Linked DNA regions of Homo sapiens: region 2 is linked to region 1. A link means that fine-mapping ties the variant in region 1 to the expression of a gene that starts in the linked region. Tissue or cell type: whole blood. Region 1 holds a variant in brackets; the other region holds the start of a gene. All regions are shown on one strand. Distances are between the middles of the regions.

Region 1 (8,177 bases):
GAGGATCACTTGAGTCCAGGAGTTCAAGACTAGCCTGGACAACATAGTAAAATCCTATCTCTAAAAAAAAAAAGGGCCGGGCACAGTGGCTCATGCATATGTAATCCCAGCACTTTGGGATACTGAGGCGGGCAGATCACCTGAGGTCAGGAGTTTGAGACCAGCCTGCCAACATGGCGAAACCCCGTCTCTACTAAAAATACCAAAATTAGTTGGGCGTGGTGGCGGGCACCTGTAATCCCAGCAACTCAGGAGGCTGAGGCAGAACTGCTTGAACCTGGGTGGCAGAGGTTGCAGTGAGCCGAGATTGTGCCACTGCACTCCAGCCTGGGCAAAAGAGCGAAATTCCTCTCAAAAAATAAATAAATGAAAAAAATCTAAAAAAATTTTTAAAAAGGAAACTCTAGACCCCTACCTCATACCATAATGCAAATCAATTTGTCATAAGTCACAGACTTCAATGTGGGAGTTCAAACAATGAAACTTCTAGGAGAAAACACAGCATAATGCCTTTGTAACCTCAGGACAGGCAAAAATTTCTTAGGCAGGCCACAAAGTCATTAACTACAAAAAGAAAATTTCATAAATTAGATATCCTCAAAACTAAGAAACTTCAGTTCATCACCAAAAAAAATGAAAAGGCAAGCTACAGTATAAGAGAAAATATTTACCAAAAGTCTAGTATCTAGAATATACAAAGAACTCCTTCAACTCAGTTATAGCAAGACAAACCCAATTTTTAAAAAAACAAGTGCACAAGATTGAACAGGAACTTTACAAAAACATCTGAATGGCCAATACGATGCTCAATATTATTAGTCACCAGGGAAATGCCAATTAAATTAATAGAGAGAGTACGGCACACACGTTAGATGGCTAATATTAAAATGGCTGACGGCCAGGCACGGGGGCTCACGCCTGTAATCCCAGCACTTTGGGAGGCCGAGGCGGGCAGATCACGAGGTCAAGAGATCGAGACCATCCTAGCCAACGTGATGAAACCCCGACTCTACTAAAAATACAAAAATTAGCTGGGCGTGGTGGCGCACACCTGTAGTCCCAGCTACTGGAGAGGCTGAGGCAGGAGAATCGCTTGAACCCAGGAAGCGGAGGTTGCAGTGAGCCGAGATCATGCCATTGCACTCCAGCCTGGTGACAGAGCAAGACTGCATCTCAAAAACAAAACAAGATAAAAAATGGCTGACACTAGGAAGTGGTGGAAAAGGTGTGGATCATCGGGGACTCCCATATGCTCGCATAGGTGAGAGCATAAAATCTTGCGACCAGTGTGGAAAACTGTTCGGCATTTTCTAATAAATATCAACATATACCTACCCTAAGACCCATCGGTCCCACTGCTAGGCATTTATAGACAGAGATGTACATGGATGATCCATGGATGAATACTGGGTAGATGGATGGATGGGTGGATGATGGATATGGGACAGTTGGAGGGACAGCATCTGTTTTTTAGTGTTTTGTGAAACAAGTGGAATAATGCATAAGTGCCTTGCACAGTGAATGACACATAATAAACATTGCTATTATATTTTATCATCATTTTCTTTACAAATAATAACATTTTTGGTAACTAAGACTAAGAAGAAATTTGGTAACTAAGACTAAGAAGAAATTTGGTAACTAAGACTAAGACTAGGAAGACAAAAGTCAAATGTCATTGCAGATAGATGGATGAACAGATGGATGTGGGGCTGTTGGAGGCAGATGGACAGATAGACAATGGATGGATTGATGGACATGGGACAGATGGAGGGATAGACCCTGGATGGATGGATGGACATGGGACAGTTGGAGGGATAGACCCTGCATGGATGGATGGACATGGGACAGTTGGAGGAATAGATCCTGGATGGATGGATGGATGGATGGATGGATGGATGGATGGATGGATGGATATACGGACAGATGGATATAGGACAGATGAAGGGGTAGATCCTGGATGGATAGATATGGGACAGATGAAGGAATAGACCCTGGATAGATAGATGGATATGGGACAGATGGAGGTATAGAACCTGGATGGAGAGATAGATATAGGACAGATGAAGGAATAGATCCTGGATGAATGATGGATACAGGACAGTTGGAGGAATAGACCCTGGATGGATGGATGGATGGGTGGATGAATGGATGGATGGATGGATGAATGGATGGATGGATATAGGACAGATGGAGGGGTAGGTCCTGGATGGGTAGATAGATATAGAACAGATGAAGGAACAGACCCTGGATAGATAGATGGATATGGGACAGAATGGAGGGATAGACCCTGGATGGAGAGATAGATATAGGACAGATGAAGGAATAGATCCTGAATGGATGATGGATATAGGACAGTTGAAGGGATAGACTCTGAATGGATGGATGGATATAGGATAATTGGAGAGACAGACGTTGAATGGATGGATGGATGGATGGATGGATGGATGGATGGATGGATGGATATGGGACAGTTGGAGGGATCAACCCTAGATGGATGGATGGATGCATTGATAGATGGATGGATGGATGGGTGTAGGACAGTTGGAGGGACAGATGATGGATGGATAGATGGACATGGGACAGTTGGAGGGATAGACCCTGGTTGGAAAGATGGACAGATATGGGGCAACTGATAAGCAAGTGAACCAGGTTGTCCATGCAATGCCTCCAAGCCCCGCGGGCTGATGGTGTCCTTCCAAGTGGAGAAGCCAGGCTCGGGAGGGGGCGCCCATGGGTGCTCACCAGCCTTGAGCTTCTCCAGCTGTCCCCGCACATCCTGGAAGCGGGCCTCAAGGCGCTCAGCCTCCGAGTGCACCTTGTCCATGCGCTGCTGCAACACCTTCTGCTGCTGCTCCTGCAGCAAATGCTGGTCATCCTTGCTGGCACGTGCGCTCACCAAAGCCTCCTGCATCTGTGGGGACAGGGCTGAATGCTGGGCCAGATGGCAGCCTCGGGAGTTGGGGGTGTGGAGCTAGGAAGAAGCAGGAGGCAGGCTGAGGGAGGGAAGGGGGCGGGGAGGCCGGGAGGAGAGGAGGAGATGGAGAGGGCAGGCCTCACTCACCTCCTTGATCTCTTCCTGCACATGCTCCAGCTCCAAGTTCTGCTCGTTGATGAAGTTGAACTCAGCAAAGTTGCGCTCCTCGACTGGGAGAGTTGGGCAAGGCGGGGCCCAGAGAGAGGGAGACAGAGAAACAGAGACAGAGAGAACAGAGACAGAGAGGCATACAGAAGGCCAAAGAAAGTGAAGATGAGGAAGGCCACACAGAAACCAAGGCAGAGAGACGAACAGAGAGGAGTCACAGAGACAAAGAGGTGTGGGAAGATACGGCAGGTGGGACACAGAAATACACAGCAAGGCAGAGAGGGAAAGCCAGAGACTCGGCAATAGCAAGGGAGATGGGGAGATGCAGGCGGGGAGAACGGTAGATATGGGTAAGGAGAGAAACAGAGAGGGACAGGGTTGAGGGAAGGATGTGGAGAGTGACCCCAGGCCCAGGAGTTAGGAGGGGGTGGGGAGGGGCAGAGACAGGGCCACGGTAAGACGCCAGTGGACGCGGGCGGCGGGTCCCAGGCATGACGCCTTGTTCCTCCAGCACAGATGGAGGAGTTCCCCAGGGCCAGAGCTGAGGCCAGCCTGCACTGGACTCAGGGGGTGCCGGGGTCCCGGGCCTCCTCCCTCCACCCAGGGCCCCACTCACTCTCCAGATACTTCTGCACCAACAGGTCAGGGTCACTCTCCCCCATCAGCTGGGACAGTTTATTCAGGGCGTCCTCGTAGCAAAGCACCAGCCTCTCCTGGGAGGTCTTCCAGACGCCCTCGGCCACCTCCCCGGCTAGGGGAAGAGAGAACAGCAGGTCGGCCTCCTGGGTGGCCTCCAACACAGAGACCTCCTGGGTGAGGGGGAGCGAAGTGTGGTCCCACCTGGGGCACGAAGGTGTGCTGCAGGTGCCCCAGGGGCGGCCAGGCCCTTGAGATGCAAAGGCAGCAGCCCCAGCCTCACCCTGCTTTTCACGCTTCTCCAGGACATCGGGATCCGGCTGCCGGTCGTTGTTCTTGAGCTTGAGGAAGTGGTGCAGCTGCTCCAGGTGCAAGATCTGCCGCTGCAGGACCTGCGCCTCCATCTCGCTCTGGGCCTCCTCTTTCTCCGCGCGCTCCCGCAGCAAGCCCATCTTGGCCTTCGCCTCCTCCCTGCGGGGGTCAGCCGGGGTCAGGATGACTGGAGGCTGGACTGGGGTCGGCCTGGGGTCCTGGGGATGGGCGGGGTCAGCCAGAGGTTGTGGGGGGTGAGGTGGAGTCAGCTGGTGTCCCAGATGGGCAGGGCCAGCCTGGGGTCACAGGAATGGGGCTGAATCAGGTTGCAGTTATCCTGTGGTCACAAAAAGCAGAGAACTGGCTGGGCACGGTGGCTCAGGCTGTAATCCCAGCACTTTGGGAGGCAGGAGGATCACCTGCAGTCAGGAGTTTGAAACCAGCCTGGCCAACATGGTGAAACTCCATCTCTACTAAAAATACAAAAATTAGCCAGACCTGGTGGTGCATGCCTGTAATCCCAACTACTTGGGAGGCTGAGGCAAGAGAATCGCTTGAACCTGGGAGGTGAAGATTGCAGTGAGCTGAGATCGCACCACTGCACTCCAGCCTGGGTGGCAAGAGCGAAACTGTCTCAAAAAAAAAAAAAAGACAGAAGCAAGAACTTCAAAAGAGTGC[G/A]ACATCATATTAGAAACACAACACAAAACTCTCGGTGTGCTGCTGGCTCACGTTCTTTCAGCAGCCTGCTCTCCTCATCCTTCAGAGTGTACTGTCTCTCTCTAGGTAAACTCTCTGTTCTCTATTTGCCTTCAGTAAATTCTCTTTGTTGGCTAAATCAGTCTCTTGGCAGAATTCTTTCTCCCAAGTAAGACTAAAAAGCGAGGATTCCTGTACTTCCCGGTGGCAGGTAGTTTTCCTTTTGGAGTGATGGAAATATTTCAGATCTAGACAGAAGTGGTGCGGTTGCACGGCCCCGTGAATGTACTAAATGCTGCTACATTCTACGCTTTAAAATGGTGAATTTTGCCACGTTTGTTTTAACAGAGAGAGAGAAAGAGAGAAATCACAGAGACCCTAAGGCCGACCCAGGCCACAGCTGATGTCGATCAGGGACCATGAGAAAACAGAAGCCAGAGAAGAACTTAGTAGAAGGTAAGAAAGCATTTGGAGCAAAAGAAGAGGGCGAAGCTGAGAAAGAGACAGGGATGGAGTGAGAGAGAGAGCATGGAGCTCATGAGAGCCCCAGAGAGGGAGAGAGAAGCCAACACCTAAAGCAGCTTCAGCTCCTCAACTCCTTACAGTGTGCCTCTATCTGAAGGTGGCCCGAGAGGATCTCTGTCCCTTGCAACCAATGCTGACGAATAACAAATTCGCCAGATGCTTCCAGGAACCCTGCTGCACTATATATGTGCTAGATGCGCTTTTTTTTTTTTTTTCTCCTGAGACGGAGTCTCACTCTGTTGCCCAGGCTGGAATGCAGTGGTGCAATCTCGGCTCACTGCAACCTCCGCCCCCAGGGCTCAAGCAATCCTCCCACCTCAGCCTCCCAAGTAGCTGGGACCACAGACACCCGCCACCATGCCCAGCTAAGTTTTTATATTTTTGGTAGAGATGGGATTTCACCATGTTGGCCAGGCTGGTCTCGAACTCCTGAGCTCAAGCAATCTGCCTGCCTTGGCCTCCCAAAGTGTTGGGATTACAGGCGTGAGCCACCTCGCCCAGCCAGTAGATACATTCTTATGTGCTAGATGGGGTCAGTAGAGGTTAATTTACATGCCCAAGAAAAAGAACAGGGCCGGTGGGGTGCAATGGCTCATGCCTGTAATCCCAGCACTTTGGGAGGCAGAGGCGGGTAGATCATGAGCTCAGGAGTTCAAGACCAGCCTGGTCAAGATGGTGAAACCCCATCTCTACTAAAAATACAAAAATTAGCCAGCCACGGTGCCGGGCACCTGTAATCCCAGCTACTCGGGAGGCTGAGGCAGGAGAATTGTTTGAACCTGGGAGGTAGAGGTTGCAGTGAGCCAAGATAGCGCAACTGCACTGTAGCCTGGGCGACAGAGCCAGACTCTGTCTCAAAAAAAAAGACAGAACAGGACCTTGCCAGTGGAGGTGGGGAACTGGTGGCGGGGAGAGAGAAAAAGGGGATATTATGGGAGAAAAAATAGGTTCTGACGTGTTTCATGAGTCCTGAACCTTCCCATCACTGCCTTATGGAAAGGTGCGTCCTGAGTCATCTGGGTCCCGCCATCCCAGGATACCCGCAGTCTCTACCTGACGGCGTAGGCAGAGGTGGAGGAGAGGATAAGGGTGCTGACCAGGTGATGCAGGTGGTGGATCTCCTGTGGGGGGAGGAGAAAAAAATCAGTGCCACTTCTTACAACCCCATTGCTCGAAGTCTTTCCTTTTGGCCCCGTGCTTCTCCAATAAGGAGTAAAGCTCTTGAGCCTTCCAAATGTGGACCCTCCTCATTAGCGACTGCCCATGAAAGGGATTTTAAAGAGGTGTGAAGTCAAATTGATAAGCTGGATCAAAAGGCTCTTTCTGTAGATAAGCAGAAACTAAGAAAATATTTAGTAACCTACGGGGACTGGGTGGAAATGAGGTGGAGGAGATGGAGAGGAAATGACGTTTCCCTAGGAGACCTTTTGGAATAGTTTGATTTGAGAACCTTGTTAATGTTTTACATATTCATAAAGGAAATTAAATCAATAAAGAGAGGAGAGAAAACTAAAACTGAATGCAAATGGAAGCAAGTGAACTTTATTTAAAAATAATAATAGGGCCAGGTGCGGTGGCTCAGGCCCATAATCCCAGCAGTTTGGGAGGACGAGGCGGGCAGATCACCTGAGCTTGGGAGTTCGAGACCAGCCTGGCCAACATAGAGAAACTCCATCTCTATTAAAAATACAAAATTAGGGCCAGGCGCGGTGGCTCACGACTGTAATCCCAGCACTTTGGGAGGCCAAGACGGGAGGATCACCTGAGGTCGGGAGTTTGAGACCAGCCTGACCAACATGGAGAAACCCTGTCTCTACTAAAAATACAAAAAATTAACCAGGCGTGGTGGTGCATGCCTGTAATCCCAGCTACTTGGGACAATGAGGCAGAAGAATAGCTTGAATCCGGGAGGCGGAGGTTGTGGTGAGCCGAGATCGTGCCATTGCACCCTAGCCTGGGCAACAAGAGTGAGACTCCATCTCAAAAGAAAAAAAAAAAGAAAGAAAGAAAGAAAGAAAGATGAAATGAGGAATGCTCAGGAAAAAGCTGGTGATATTGGAATGGAATCAGAGGTATCAATGTGAACTCACTATTGTAAAATATGTCAGCCAGGCGCAGTGGCTCATGCCTGTAATCCCAATACTTTGTGAGGCCAAGGCAGGAGAATCACCTGAGCCCAAGAGTTTGAGAGCAGCCTGGACAACATAGTAAGACCCCATCTCTACAAAACATAAATAGAATTTTAAAACATATAAAATATGTGTGCTTCCTAGCTCTCTCCAGAGGAAGGGCCTCAAAGCAATGACACCCAAGTAGCAACAGAGTCTCTTAGTGCCAGGCTGGTGGTTCACGCCTGTAATCCCAGCACTGTGGGAGGCCGAGGTGGGCGGATCACGAGGTCAGGAGATCGAGACCATCCTGGCTAACACGGCAAAACCCCGTCTCTACTAAAAATACAAAAAATTAGCCGGGCGTGGTGGCAGGTGCCTGTAGTCCCAGCTACTCGGGAGGCTGAGGCAGGAGAACGGCGTGAACCTGGGAGGCGGAGCTTGCAGTGAGCCGAGATCATGCCACTGCACTCCAGCACTTTAGCCTGGGTGACAAAGCGAGACTCCGTCTCAAAAAAAAAAAAAAAAAGAAAACGGTCTCTTAGTGCCTCAACACCTACTCTTCCCTAGAAAGAACCGGGACTCCTCAGAAAAATGGCCAACCCCAGGGATGGGGCAGAACAAGGTCCAGATTACCCAGACTATCTTCGTGTGCCAGAAAGTGAGGAAGTACTCCCAAAAAGTGATGGGGTATGTCCAAAGGCCACAGAAGCCAGCTTGAAGGGGCTCCCACTAACCAAATCTGGGGCAATTTGAATATTAAAATGAATGGCAGTTACGGATCATCATCTATAAAGTCAGAATACACTAATGCT
Region 2 (8,177 bases), 22 kb after region 1:
TCAGCTCATAATCTCGGAGGCCCAGGATGGGGAGATCCCGCCGCCACCCTCAGATCCTTTGATTCTTCCCCTTCTACATAGCCATAGTGCGGGGACCCCCCTAATATCCCCAGGGTACCCAAGCCTGGCGCCGATCCCACTCAGGGAACTTGATTCTGAGTCCTAGACTCGTGTTTTTCACCTCCCCGGCTCAAGTTTCCATCTTCCTAGCCCCTGGCTCCCCCTAGTCCTCTCAAGAAAGTGGAGCCCTCTTTTCCTGCTCCCCAAGAGGAACGTATGTCTCCCCAGCCCCTAATTTTTCCTTCAGTGACCCAGACTTTGCAACTTCCTTAGGGATCTGAGTGCGGACCCCAGTTTCTGTCTCTCAGGCACTTAAGTTTGAGACTACTTATTCTCCCCCAGGGACCCTCATTTTGGATTCCCAACTTTAGCCTTGAGACCCAATGGACCCAAGAATTTGCCCCTTCCCCAACTCCTAGAGATCCTGAATCAGGGTCCCCCAGTACTGACTCCACTCAGAGCCCCAATGCCTGATATGACTAGCACTACCCTAAGAACTGCCCTATAATGTATTTACTATTATCTCTATTTTTCAGATGAAGAGACTGAGGCATAGAGAAGTTATTAGTAACTTGCCAAAAATTACACAGCCATTGAGTAAAACAGCTTGGATTTTGAGTCCAACCAGTGTGGCTCTAGAGTCTGTGCTATACTGGTATTCCAGCTTCCAGGTCTTGGGGTACCCAGCCAAGCACTGAACTGTCCATCCCTCACCCCCTCAGGGAGCCCGAATCACCAACAGCTATCCCAAACCCAGCTCTGGCCCATCAGATACCCAGACATCCCATCATCCAGTTCCCTTCCCTGGATCCAGGATTTGAATTCCCCTGCTCTCAATTTATCAGAGTTCTGGGCACCTGGTCCCCTCCCAAGAGACTCGTGTACATAGTAGTCATCACCCCGACCCTAATTTAATATCCCCAAAATTAATAATAATAGTTAACAGTAAACCTTTGGGGCCAGGCACAGTGTCTTACGCCTGTAATCCCATCATTTTGGGAGGCCAAGGCAGGCAGATCACTGGAGGTCAGGAGTTCGAGGCCAGCCTGGCCAACATGGAGAAACCCCCGTCTCTACTAAAAATACAAAAATTGGCTGGGCGTGGTGGCGGGCACCTGTAATCCCAGCTACTCAGGAGGCTGAGGCAGGAGAATCGCTTGAACCGGGAGGTGGAGGTTGCAGTGAGCTGAGATCATGCCACTGCACTCCAGCCTGGATGACAGAGCAAGACTCCATCTCAAAAAAAAAATAAAAATCTTTGGTACTACACTCTGTTAAAACCTAATGGCTTTCCACTGCACTTAGAATGAAATCCAAGCCCCTCCCCTAGTCTTCAAGGGCACCCTTTGATTTCCCTTCTCACCACTCCCTCTGTCTCCCTGTGCTCCAGCCACACTGGCCCTTCTGTCTGCTCCCTAAACAACCTGAGCTTGTTCTCAAAAGCTTTAAGAGCTTTTGCACTTCCTCTCCCCCCGACGCCCCCCCACCACTCCCCAACCCCAGCGTTCAAATGACTCCTGTCTTCAGCTCAAATGTTACCTCCTCCAAGAGGCCTTCCCTGATTTTCCTGTTTCAAGTAGTCTTCCCTGCACTCTGTCATTATCTCCATCACTCTGTTTGATTTATTATTGTATTTATTTTTCTTTTCTTCTTTTATTTTTTTTTTTCTTTAAGATGGAGTCTTGCTCTGTCACCCAGGATGGAGTGCAGTAGCGTGATTTCAGCTTACTGCAACCTCCGCCTCCCGGGTTCAAGCAATTCTCCTGTCTCAGCCTCCTGAGTAGCTGGGTTACAGGCGCCCACTACCATGCCTGGCTAATTTTTGTATTTTTAGTAGAGACAGGGTTTCACCATGTTGGCCAGGCTGGTCTTGAACTCTCGACCTCAGGTGATCCTCCAGCCTTGGCCTCCCAAAGTGCTGAGATTACAGGCATGAGCCACCACGTCCAGCCTATTGTATTTATTTTTCAAGTCACTTATCCTTATCTGAGATTTATCTTCATCATTGATGTTTTCTCTTGTCTGTCTTCCTCTACTAGAATACAAGCTCCATAATACCAGCAGGGCTCATGTCTGTTTTCATTATTAACTCCCAGATCAGAGTACATGTTCAATAAATGTTTGATGAAGGAAGGAACAGGTTAGGTGTGTGAGTGTGCCAGTATTACCTTATTCATTCAGCATAAGTATCAGAATTATTATTATCAGTATTAGTATTTTGTCAGCATTATTATACTCTCAACATAGACTAAGATACTGGAGCCCAGGTGGGTGAAATAATTGGCTCAAGGTCACTGAACCAGGAAATGATGGCGCTGGGATTCTTAGCTTCCGCTTCCTCCCCGCTTCCAGAGTTTCACAAGGTTTTTTTTTTTGTTTGTTTGTTTTTTGTTTTGTTTTGTTTTTTTTTTGCGACAGAATCTCACTTTGTCCCCCAGGTTGGAAGGCAGTGGTGCAAACTCAACTCACTGCAGCCTCCACCTCTCGCGTTCAAGCGATTCTCATGGCTCAGCCTCCCAAGTAGCTGGGATTACAGTCGCCCGCCACCACGCCCGGCTAATTTTTGTATTTTTGATAGAGACGGGTTTCCACCATGTTGGCCAGGCTGGTCTCGAACTCCTGACCTCAGATGATCTGCCCGTCTCGGCCTCCCAAAGTGCTGGGATTACAGGCGTGAGCCACAACGCCCTGCCGAGTTTCACAAATTTCATCTCCCATCCTCTGACCCCCCACCACGGGGCCAACTTCACCAGCCCAATCTCAAGTCCATGCCACAGAAATCTGGCCTCTTTTCCCAGACTCCTATCCAGCTCCAAGCTCCATCAGGGAAAGCAGACATCCGGCCCCAGGGCAAGACCTCAAAACTCAAGGGTCCTGAGAATCGGGCCCTCCCACCCCTGACGCTTGCCCCCCCCAAGAACCCCATTCCAAGAGTTTCTCATCTCAACCCTGGGAGGGAGCCCCAGATGATGTCTGTCTGGAGGGATTGGGTGGGGGCCCAAAGAAAGAGGAACCGGAGTGCCTGGGCCCTCCCACTGGCAGCCGACCTCAGCTGGGTGCGGTGAGGGTGGGTTTATAAAAGGGTCAGTATATATTGAGAGGAGGAGAGAAAGAGAAACGGGAGCAAGAGAGAAGGAGGCCCAGACAGTGAGGGCAGGAGGGAGAGAAGAGACGCAGAAGGAGAGCGAGCGAGAGAGAAAGGGTTCTGGATTGGAGGGGAGAGCAAGGGAGGGAGGAAGGCGGTGAGAGAGGCGGGGGCCTCGGGAGGGTGAAAGGAGGGAGGAGAAGGGCGGGGCACGGAGGCCCGAGCGAGGGACAAGACTCCGACTCCAGCTCTGACTTTTTTCGCGGCTCTCGGTAAGTTTCCAGTCCGTTATTCAGGGCTGGGACTTCTTAATTTACTTGGGAATGTAGCAGTTTGGGAAGGACACCCCCAGGCTGGGAGAGACGTCCCTGACTCTTGGAAATCCTTTTAATTTAATAAGTGATCTCTTAGCACTTGAGGTGGGGATATGGGAAGGGGTGGGGCCCGGCAAAGTTTTGGGGTCCCAGCAGAGCCCTCCACTGGAAAACTTCCTGCAGTTTTTCCCTCAGCGGTGTCCACTGTCCTCTGGGGTCCCTGAGATCAGGGCATTGCATGAGAACACCCCAAATCTGGGAGACCTCTAGGTCCCCTGTTCCTGGGCACCAAAGAGTCCTGGGAGGCTAACTCCTTCTTGGGCCTCTCTTCCCCCCAGCGCGAATCCTATCCATTTCCTCCAGAAGATGTCCAACAGTCACCAGTCTGGCAGCAGGGTGGGGTGAGGACCTCGTGGACATAGCCAGGGGCTGGGGTTTCCCTGGTGCTTAGAGATGGGGGGGGGTGGGGATGAGTCACCAGATGACTCACCAGGTCCCCCTCCTCCCCTCAACCCAGGAGAGGAGTGGTGTGAGTCAAGAATGCCTGTTGCTGGGGGCAGCTCCTCAATCCTGATGTCGGGGTGCAGGGTGGGGTCTCAACTTGAATTTTCACTATCTGGCCTGTATGTAACCCAGAGTCAGGGTTCTGGGGAGAGAGGAGCCACATTGCTAGTCCTCCTCATTCAAGGAACCCAAGAGTCCATCTTTGGCCCTCTCCACCCCTCCAGCCAATGGGGATCTCAGGAATCCAGGCCCCAGCGGTCTCCTCCCTGAGAGACCCAGGAGTCTGCACCCATGCCCTTCCTCCATCAGGAGACATCTCACCTGCCTTTATGCCAAATTTTTTTTTTTTTTTGAGACGGAGTCTTTCTCTGTCACCCAGGCTGGAGTGCAATGGCATGATCTTGGCTCATTGCAACCTTTGCCTCCTGGATTCCAGTGATTCTCCTGCCTCAGCCTCCCGAGTAGCTGGGATTACAGGTGTGCACCACCACACCCAGCTAATTTTGTATTTTTAGTAGAGATGGGGTTTCACCATGTTGGCCAGGCTGGTCTCGATCTCCTGACCTCAGGTGATCCTCCCGCCTCGGCCTCCCAAAGTGCTGGGGTTATAGGCGTGAGTGTGCCTGGCCTGTGCCAACCTCTTGAGACTCCGTCCCCTGCTCCCCCTCCCCAGGCTTCCACTGCAGCCATGTCACTCCTCTTGCTGGTGGTCTCAGCCCTTCACATCCTCATTCTTATACTGCTTTTCGTGGCCACTTTGGACAAGGTAAGCCTACTTGGAGCTCAGGGCCCTTCTGTTCCCCTTTGGAATCTTGCCACGCCCCTCCTCTAAAGGCATTCTGGCCCCACCCCCTTTACCTAGTATTTCTTTTTTATTTTATTTCATTTATTTTGAGACAAGGGTCTCACTCTGTCCCCCAGGCTGGAGTGCAGTGGTGCGATCTCGGCTCACTGCAACCTCGGCCTCCCGGGTTCAAGCGATTCTCCTGTCTCAGCCCCCCAAGTAGCTGGGATTAGAGGCACCTGCCACCAAGCCCGGCTAATTTTTTTATTTTGGTAGAGACGGGGTTTCACCATGTTGCCCAGGCTGGTCTCGAACCCCTGGCCTCAAGTGATCCACCTGCCTCGGCCTCCCACAGTGCTGGGATTACAGGCATGAACCACCAGGTTAACCCTTTTAGCTCTACCTCCGATGCCTCCTCCCTGTCCTGACCCTACCCCCTCTCATATTAAATCCTAACTCTCCCCAGTTCTGCCCCATCCCAGATACCCTGCCCTTTTCCCAGCCCTTCCCACAGTCTGCCTGACCCTATCCCCTCTCCTTTCCTAACCCTGCCCCTTGTTTCGTTCTCTGTCCATCCCAGTCCTGGTGGACTCTCCCTGGGAAAGAGTCCCTGAATCTCTGGTACGACTGCACGTGGAACAACGACACCAAAACATGGGCCTGCAGTAATGTCAGCGAGAATGGTGAGGGGTGAGGGCGGCGGGACTGGTCTTCAAAGGGGAAGGTAAACCCTTCGTGTCCTCATGGGACTGAGAATTGGGAACCCTCCCCCAACAAAGTTGGAGTGGGCGGGGTCCAGGCCTGAGTGGCTGAGTGCCTAGGGCTAATGCATGTCCCGCCTGTCTGGATGTACCTACCTCTTGTTTTTTTTGTTTTTGTTTTTTGAGACCGAGTTTTCCTCTGGTTGCCCAGGCTGGAGTGCAGTGGCGCAATCTTGGCTCACTGCAACCTCTCCCTCCGGGGTCCGAGCAATTCTCCTGCCTCAGCCTCCCGAGTAGCTGGGACTGCAGGTGTGTGCCACCACGCCTGGCTAATTTTGCATTTTTAGTAGAGACAGGTTTCACCATGTTGGCCAGGCTGGTCTTGAACTTCTGACTTCAGCTAATCCACCTGCTTCAGCCTCCCAAAGTGCTGAGATTACAGGCGTGAGCCACCACATCCAGCCAGTACCTCCTGTTCTGAAGAGGCCATATAGATAAAAGCATGCTATAGGTTTAAAGAATAGAGAGGGGAGGCCAAGGCGGGTAGATCACGAGGCCAGGAGTTCGAGACCAGCCTGGCCAAGATGATGAAACCCCGTCTCTACTAAAAATACAAAAAAATTAGCCGGGCATGGTGGCGTGCGCCTGTAGTCCCAGCTACTTGGGAGGCTGAGGCAGAAGAATCGCTTGAACCCAGGAGGTGGAGGTTGCAGTGAGCTGAGATTGCACTACTGCACTCCAGCCTGGGCAACAGAGCAAGATTCTGTCTCAAAAAAAAAAAAAAAAAAAAAGAATAGAGAAAAATCTCCCAAGATTCTGAGAAGACAAGAGTATTTTTCCAAAGCTCTAAGGAGATGGGGCTGGTGCTCTGAATGGATGCCTGGGACCATTTCATCCAAATTCCAAGGGGATGGGGCTGAAACCACTTAAGGTTCTAAAGGGGTGGGGCCAGGTGCATTGGAGTTCTAAAGGAATAGAGCTGCATCTATCTAAAGTTCTGTGTGAAAGATTTAATGCAAAACTAAGATTAAAGGAAGTGGTCTGCTCTCACCACTTCTATTCAACCTTTTACTGGAGTAGCCAATGCAAGAAGGCAAGAAAAAGAAATAAAGGGCATGGGAAATAAATTAGGAAAAAGTGTCTCTATTCCCAGTAAACATGTTGTTTATGTAGAAAATCCATTAAAATTCTGCAAAGCAGACAGACACAGTGGCTCACACCTGTAATCCCAGCACCTTGGGAGGCTGAGGAGGAAGGATCACTTAAGCCCAGGAGTTCAAGACCAGCCTGGACAACATAGGGAAACCCTGTCTCTACAAAAATTTAAAAATTACCCAGGTTGTGGTGGCTTGTGCCTGTGGTCCCAGCTACTCAGGAGGCAGGGGTGAGAGAATTTCTTGAGCCCTGAAGGACGAGGCTGCAGTGAGCCATGATTATACCACTGCACTCCAGCTTGGGCAACAGAGCAAGACCTGGTTTCAGAAAAAAAAGAAAAAGGAAATTGGCAAAGCAACTACTAGAACTGAGAAGGGAATATAGCAAGGTAACAGGGCTCAAGGTCAAAATAAGTGATACATCTAAGTATCTAGGCTTGTATGGGCCTAAACGGGAGCAGGGATGGGGCAGAGAAGGGTCACATGGTGAGCAAGCAGGTGAAGCTGGAACTCTGGACCCACGGTGATGTCCCCCTCTGTGTCCTCCTTACTGCAGGCTGGCTGAAGGCGGTGCAGGTCCTCATGGTGCTCTCCCTCATTCTCTGCTGTCTCTCCTTCATCCTGTTCATGTTCCAGCTCTACACCATGCGACGAGGAGGTCTCTTCTATGCCACCGGCCTCTGCCAGCTTTGCACCAGTGAGCACTGCCCCTCCCCAACCCTAATCCCCCAAGAATTGAGCAGAAGGGAGTGGGGTGTGTCAAGATGCTGGGGGCCCTGAGAATGGGCCTCTCGTAGAAAAAAACAACTTTCAACACCCCACGAGCCACAAGAGGTGCCTCCGTGGGCTACATCTCTGCCCCCAGGGATTGCTGGGACTTGTAGTTTTCAGTGGCTAATGATAGTTATGGCTTGTGCGTATGAGTCATCAGGGAACTCAGAGTTTCAGGGAGCCGGGGCTGGGGAAGGAGGTATAGGTAAATAGTTTTGGTCCCAGGGATCGGCCGTGACGTGGGGGGATAAACTAATTAGTACCTCAGTAGAGAGCTCTAAATCATAATAATAATGGTATTTATATCAGCCAACCGCTGTTTCTTGCGTGCCTATTGTGCATCAGATACTTCAAGAAGTTTTGCGTACTTTTTAATTTTTTGACTTAAGGTGCAAAGGGCTAACTTAATCACAGTCAGTTTGGGGAACATTATAGGTTCTTGCAAAGCTTCTCTCTTGGTTTATGAATTTACTACTGCATGTTTGGCTTATAGAAACACACTCAAAAATATTCCTTGGATGGATAGAGAGATATTATTGGACCTAGAGAGATTAAATCAGTTACCTAAGGCCGCGCTACAGTTGCACGGCGCTGGGCGGGGGGGAAAGAACCACAACTCCCAGCAGGCAGCGGCGCTGCCCACGGGCCCTCCGGCGCTTCTTTGCCCCCATGGGATATTGGGAAATGTAGTCTTGAGGGGGCACTGCATGACGTGTGGTTTTCATCTTCCGCAGGCGTGGCGGTGTTTACTGGCGCCTTGATCTATGCCATTCACGCCGAGGAGATCCTGGAGAAGCACCCGCG

The links. PIP is the estimated chance that this variant, and not a neighbour inherited with it, causes the effect.
Region 2: EMP3 starts here. The variant in region 1 is fine-mapped to the expression of EMP3 in whole blood (TOPMed, PIP 0.94).

What each region holds. Positions count from the first base shown.
Region 1 is chr19:48,299,949-48,308,125 of GRCh38, forward strand. ODAD1 (outer dynein arm docking complex subunit 1) reads right to left here. Exons shown (of 16, transcript NM_001364171.2): 8 at 6,308-6,375; 9 at 4,005-4,192; 10 at 3,702-3,836; 11 at 3,065-3,147; 12 at 2,746-2,914. Among named protein-coding and RNA genes, the nearest start is that of ODAD1, 18 kb to the right of the region's middle. RefSeq lists enhancers at 3,376-3,900, 3,901-4,424. The variant G/A (reference allele first, on the strand shown) is at 4,712.
Region 2 is chr19:48,322,194-48,330,370 of GRCh38, forward strand. It overlaps EMP3 (epithelial membrane protein 3 (MAM blood group)), which reads left to right and starts at 3,359. Exons shown (of 5, transcript NM_001425.3): 1 at 3,359-3,417; 2 at 4,637-4,729; 3 at 5,328-5,430; 4 at 7,159-7,299; 5 at 8,108-8,177. The coding sequence starts at 4,652. LOC124904735 (a long non-coding RNA gene) reads left to right here. Exons shown (of 2, transcript XR_007067284.1): 2 at 597-1,329. RefSeq lists silencers at 1-42, 2,374-2,605 and enhancers at 153-212, 223-282, 3,183-3,232, 3,833-3,882, 4,173-4,242 and 1 more.